2 linked regions of the Homo sapiens genome follow. The protein of the gene in region 2 interacts with the protein of the main gene of each other region in a biochemical or structural test. Each region holds a gene or a part of one and is shown on either strand. Other genes may lie near its edges. The genes, in order: NOTCH3 and JAG2.

Region 1 (2,540 bases), on a different chromosome or scaffold from region 2:
TGGGAGGCCAAGGTGGATGGATCACCTGAGGTCCGGAGTTCGAGACCAGCCTGGCCAACATGGTGAAATCCTGTCTCTACTGAAAATACAAAAATTAGCCAGGCATGGAGGTGGACACCTGTAATCCCAGCTACTTGGGAGACTGAGGCAGGAGAATTGCTTGAACCCGGAGGCGGGGGATGCAGTGAGCCGAGATTGTGCCATTGCACTCCAGCCTGGGTGACAAGAACAAGACTCTATCTTAAAAAAAAAAAAAAAAAAAGGAAGAAAGTAAAAGAAAAATCAATCACAATACTAGGAGTTTCTCTCTTCCCTGGAAGGAGCAATATGGCACCTATTTTGATAACACAGAGAGAAGGCTGGAGCTGTGTGATGTCGGGAAGAGAGGTTCTACTGGGTGCCATGTGGAGCATGTAGATGAAACTGATGCCCAGAGAAAGCTGTAGAGATGAAGAGAAACTGAGCCATTGTTGACCACATTTGAGCCACTAGATCAATTCTCCCCTGAAGTAGGTCCTTTTAATTTATATGAGCTAATAAACCCCTTTCTTGTTTAAGCCAGTAGACTTTTGTGTCATTTGCAACCAGGAGCACTCCAACTGACAGAATCAACGAACATTAAATCCTATCCTCCTTTCCTGAAGACACCAGTGTAAACAGAACCTTGTCTTGGAGCACGACTGGTTGCGAGTAACAGAAACCCACCGAAGCTGGCACAAGTAAAGAAGTATTTATTACATGGGTCCAAGGTTATCTCCAAAACCCATAGGAGCATGAAGTAAAAGTGAAATTCATGCAGAACCATGATCAGATACTTAGAAAGCAATTAATAAATACCTGTTGATCTCAATGGAATGAACACTCAATTAACTGGAATTGATAACTGCACTGGGAGCCGAGATAACCCCCCCAGCCCTCAAGGAGCCATTTGAGCTCTCATTTCTGATTCTCCCTGAATATTAGCTTCATTCTTCTGCCCTGTTTGCTTGTCTCTTTGCCCACCACCTCGAATTGGCCACTGATATTTCTAAATCTGATTGTGACCTTAAGAGCTCCACCAACTGACAACTTTCTTAGCCTCTCCATTAAAGAAAGTTCTCGAGCAAAAGAATCTGATTGGCTCAGCTTAAGTCAGGTGACAACCACTAATCCAATCGGTAGTCATCTGCCAAAAGAGGAAGCATAAGTAGACTGGCAAGTCAAATGTATTTACCCCAAGATGGGAGCTCAAGTTAGCCCTGGGTGGGGGAGATAGAAGTCCCACTGCCACCACTCCCCACCTTACCTAGACACAGACCAACAACACTGAGTGTTAACTATTCCTTTATTAGGTGGTGAGGGGAGTGGGGGGCTGTACAATGCAGGGCTTGGGAATTCAGCTACACAGGGATTTTGACCAGAAGCCATATTACAAAAATAGCCTAAAAATACCTCTATTCTGCCATGAGGCTGGGCCAGAGGATTACCAGGAAGAGAAAGTACCACTCAGGCAGCTCCTCTTCTTGTAGTCCCACATTTACAGGGACACAAAGGAATGCATACATCTGCCCTGGCTCCCATTTCCCACCAGCAGCCCCCTAGTTCCCAAAGGGAGATGGCCAAGGGTGGGGCTGGGGCAGAGGGAGTTGGCAGTGGGCCCTTCCCCAGCAAGGCTATGGAACATGTCCCATCTGGAATGCAGTGAAGTGAGGGAGGTGGGGTGGGGAGGAGGCTCCCAACACTCCCCCGACCCCTGGCCCCAGTGGGTGCGCCCAAGGGTGCCTACTTGGTACATACCTGGGTCGTGTACTCGGTACACGGGATCCCAGTCATGCCTGTGTACTAGGTACACAGAATCCAGCTTGGCCGAATGGGCCCACAGACTCAGCCCCACGGGGGCACTGGGGGGTTCACAGGGGGAGGGAGCATCTCCATATATATATTTTGTAAAAAATAATAATAATAAGTTTGTTTAAATGAATTTGTTTCTATACAAAATGTAAAAAAAAAAAGAAAAATAAAAATAATAATAATTCATTCATGTCAGAGTGTAAGGAAATGAGAGGCCAGAAGGAGAGAGAAAGGAATGAGGGAAGAGAGAAGTGGGGAAGAAGGAGGTCCCAGACTCTTCACAAGACTGAGAGGGTGGGTGGTAGCCCCCACCCATTATAAATAAAGGAAGACTGAAGCCCTGGGCTGATGACCTATCTCGGTCACGCTGCAAGGCAAGGATGCAGGAGGGTTGGTGGAAAGAGAAGAGGATGAAAAAGACTAAAAGGAAGGAAGAGACAGAGAAAGAAAGGAGGCAGGACGGGGGTCTCTTTAGGCCCCCAAGATCTAAGAACTGACGAGCGTCTCAGGCCAACACTTGCCTCTTGGGGGTAACTTCCGGCTGGGGCCCCAGCTGGGTCTGGGCCTGAGCAAGGGAGCTGGGAACAGACAAGGGAAGTGGCTGGGCAGGCAGTGCCCCAGTGGTGGTGGCCATGGCCCCAGTGGCAGTGGCTGGGCTAGGCGTGGATTCGGACCAGTCTGAGAGGGAGGGAGGTGAGGGGCTGGCCCAG
Region 2 (3,811 bases):
AGCTGGATGAGGCCGAGGCACTGGGACGTGCGTGGGGTGGGCGGCGGGTGAGGACCAGGGAAGGGCTGGCAGGCGTGGGGTTGGGCCTTGCTGGGGAAGTGTGGTTTTCCCCAGCTTAGCCAGGCCTTGGGGCTGGTTGGATGGGGTGTGCTGAGGGATGGAGTGAGCCTGGCCTGCCTGGACACTGCCCAACGCAGCATCCCCCCGGGGTGGGAAGCCAGCAGGCCCTGAGGTGACTCAGCCCCAGCCCCCTCCTCTGGGCCCCACCTGGAAGGAGCCAGGGCTGGGCTCAGGGGTCAAGAGCACACCAGGGGTAGACTGGGGGGTTCCTGGGCAGTGAGGGCTGAGAGGCTGTGGAATGTGGGTACCCAGTGCTGGGTAGTACAGGGCATGTCCCGGGGGTCCCACCTGTCTGAGCATGTCTGTGAGTGACGGTCTCCGTGGGCTGCACTAGGCGGAGCAGGGGGCCAGCCCTGTGGTCTCTTTGCTTGGCTGACAGCATCGCCTGTCGCCATGGCTGGGGTACAAGGGCCAGGTGGCCCGGGGGCAGAGGGGGCATAGTGGCCATGGTCTGAGGCTGTGCTGGGCAGTCCCAGGACCTCTTGGCCTCAGTTTCCCCAACTGTACCGCAAGGGCCCCTCCTGCCACCTGTTCTGTGTGAGGGTGGAGGTAGGTGTGGGTTTGCCTGTGTGCTGTATGCCTGCAGGACCTGAGCTCCGGCCTGTTGGGGCCTCTGGCTGGGCGCCCTGTACTTGGCCACCCCGTGCACTTGGTGGAGGCCGCCAGCGTGGTGATGGGGCCCCACGTTCTCCCCCGTGGTCACCCCCAGTGAGGCACCAAGGGGCGTTCCACAGGAAACGCTCGGGTCCCGGCTGCCCATGGGGCCCCTGTCTGTGGCCACTCCAGCCAGGCTGCCCTTTGCCCACCTCTCCCCCCGGTCGCTCTTCCTGTGCTCCGTGCTGACTTGAGCCAGCTCAGGGCAGGCTGGGCCTCTGGCACCCCAACGGTAGGGAGCCCAGGCCCCTGAGCCCGCGTGGCCTGGAGGGGCAGTCTCCCTCCCTTGAGCTGGGTCATTTTTGGGTCTGCAGAGGATGTGGCCTGAGGATGAGGAGGGTGGTGGGTCCCTGGCTGGGGAGGAAGGGCCAGAGCCTGGCAGACCCAGGGGCAGCGTCTGAGCCCTGGGCCTTGTCCCACCCTGAACGAGGCAGGCAGGTGTGGCCTCAGGTACCTGACCCGCCTCCCCATGTCTGCAGCGCTCCTTTACCCTCATCGTGGAGGCCTGGGACTGGGACAACGATACCACCCCGAATGGTGAGTGAGCCCTGGGCCAGGTGGCAGCTCCTCTCAGCTTCAGCGTGCCTGTGGCAGGGCCCAGCTCCTCTGTCTGCTTGGGACAAAGCCTTGCTTTACCCTGAGGATCATGTGTGCTGTTTCCCTTTTTGCTTTGGCTGCCAGGAAGCTCTGCCACGTTTGGGACTTGCAGAGCTGTGCATGCACTCTCTTCCCCAGTCCTGGCTTTGCCTATGTTGTTCTCCTCTTGGGTGTGCTCTTTTGGGGCCCATGGCAGTGACTTAGTGGAGGGGACACCCTTGAGTGTGTCTCTGGCTTTGTGGCCCCCTCTGCTTGTCTGTACTGGAGCATGGAGCCTTGGTGGCCCTCTCCCTGAGGCAGGGGCTCTGCAGGGCCCTGCAGGGGTAACGGGATGACTTCCATGGGTGAATGCAGAAGCACCCACAGGCCAAGGGAGCAGCTCGTGTGAAGGTCTGGGCAGGAGCGGGCTGGCTGTGCAGGGGGAGCAGCCGGGGCTGGGCTCAGATCATGGAGGCTGGCAAGCCACTGAGAGGACACGGGCTCCGCCTGGCAAGCTGTGGCTGCCTTATGGAGGGTGGGCTGTGGGGCCAGGACACAGACCGAGGAGGAGCTGCCACGTGAATCTGGGCGTGTCAGGGTGACTTGGACCAGGGGCAGTCTGGGGGTGAGAGGGGCTCTCAGAAGTGGAGGCATGGGGTTGGCCAATGGGTTGGAGGAGGGAGAGCGGGGCCAGGGCATCCTGGCTGCCAGCAGAGTGGAGGGGCTGTTTTCAGGGCAGGGACGGCGGTGGGGGTGCCCAGGTGGGGAGCAGCAGTTGTGGGGACCCCAGCGGCTCAGGGCAGGGGTGTTTCCTGAGGGGGTGGCAGAGAGACAGGTGGGCTGAGTCCCAAGCAAGGTCGTCAGGGCTCTTGACAACGTGAGCCTGGAGAGGCTGGGGCGGCCGGGACGCCCCTTGGGGAGTGGGCCAGCACAGTGTCCTCCCAGGCCTTGGCCCGAGGCGGGAGAGGTGGGGTCTGGAGGACCCGTTCACCTTTTATTGTGCAAAACGTCGAGCCTGTGCCTAAGCGCAGGGACCGGCATCACGGACTTTGCATACCAGCGCCAGCAGCTGTGGTGCCCCTGGCCCCTGGTCTCCTGGTGGCTTACTTAAAGTGAGGCTTAGACAGCGGGTCACGGGACCTATGCCTGTCTTGGGGGCCTGAGGGGAGGCTTGTCTTAAGGTGGGGACGGTAGTGGTGTTTGGCACTTCTGGGAGCAAGTCACAGCGCAGGAGAGGGGAGGGCAACTGAGCACCATGTCCGTGCTGTCGAGGGCTGGACACGGCGCAGGTGGGTGCAGGTGTTGGAGCAGGGCTGCAGGTGGGTGGGCACAGGTGTGGGACGTGAGACTCACGCCCTGGCAGCAGCCGTGCCTTCTCTGTGGAGCCTGTGGTCTCAGCAGCCCTCCCTGCAGGGCCCCTAGCCCCTAGCCGGGCCCCCCGACCCTCTGCGTTTAGGGTGGGAGCGGGGCGCAGGCTTGGTGGCGGGAGGGAGAGGCCTCTCGGGGCCCTGAGCTTTCTGTAGCAGCCTGGCCGGGGGCCCTGCCCTCCGTGTGCTGCTGCCTGCTGTGCCCCGGCCTTGCAGCAGCCGCAGGCTTCTGCCCCGTCCCCGTTGTTCCTGGAGGACCCCTGGCCGGGCTGGTTTCTCTGGCCTGTGCTGACTCTGCCGCCTCCCCAAGAGGAGCTGCTGATCGAGCGAGTGTCGCATGCCGGCATGATCAACCCGGAGGACCGCTGGAAGAGCCTGCACTTCAGCGGCCACGTGGCGCACCTGGAGCTGCAGATCCGCGTGCGCTGCGACGAGAACTACTACAGCGCCACTTGCAACAAGTTCTGCCGGCCCCGCAACGACTTTTTCGGCCACTACACCTGCGACCAGTACGGCAACAAGGCCTGCATGGACGGCTGGATGGGCAAGGAGTGCAAGGAAGGTGAGGGGGCCGCTGGGCTGCGTGGAGGGCAGGGAGGGCCTCGGGCAGGGCCCCGGGCACAGGCCTTGCGGCCAGGCTGGCTGCAGCTGTGCCTCTCGCTCCTCTCTGTTCGCAGCTGTGTGTAAACAAGGGTGTAATTTGCTCCACGGGGGATGCACCGTGCCTGGGGAGTGCAGGTGAGTGTGCCGCCGGCCCGTCTTTGCCCTCCCAACCTTTGCCCTCACGTCCTCACTGGCACACACAGCCTTGCTGTCAGGAGTCGCCCGGAGCTGGCTGGAGGTTGGGCACACAGCTGTGAGAGCCGGGCCCTGAGCTCGGGAGGCTCCTTAGTGCAGTAGGTGCGTGTCTGAGCATGGGATGTGTCTGATGGCGGCAGCCATGTGAGGACAGTGAGGAGAGACTGGGGAGGCTGGCTGGACAGTCACGTCACCGAGGGGCAGAGACCCGGAGGCTGCAAGCCACCCAGAGATGGGGCATGGGCAGAGGACACGGTAACCCTGCCCATGGGGAGGGGGTGGGCGGCGAGCGGCCG

The links.
Region 1: the proteins of JAG2 (region 2) and NOTCH3 form a complex in vitro, tested with the Homo sapiens proteins (one study listed by BioGRID).

What each region holds. Positions count from the first base shown.
Region 1 is NC_000019.10:15,158,327-15,160,866, forward strand, and holds the end of NOTCH3 (neurogenic locus notch homolog protein 3 precursor), read right to left. Parts: coding exon 2,336-2,540; 3' UTR 712-2,335; downstream 1-711. UniProt on the Homo sapiens protein: Functions as a receptor for membrane-bound ligands Jagged1, Jagged2 and Delta1 to regulate cell-fate determination.
Region 2 is NC_000014.9:105,155,206-105,159,016, reverse strand, and holds part of JAG2 (protein jagged-2 isoform a precursor), read left to right. Parts: intron 1-1,253; coding exon 1,254-1,311; intron 1,312-3,027; coding exon 3,028-3,279; intron 3,280-3,394; coding exon 3,395-3,455; intron 3,456-3,811. UniProt on the Homo sapiens protein: Putative Notch ligand involved in the mediation of Notch signaling. Involved in limb development.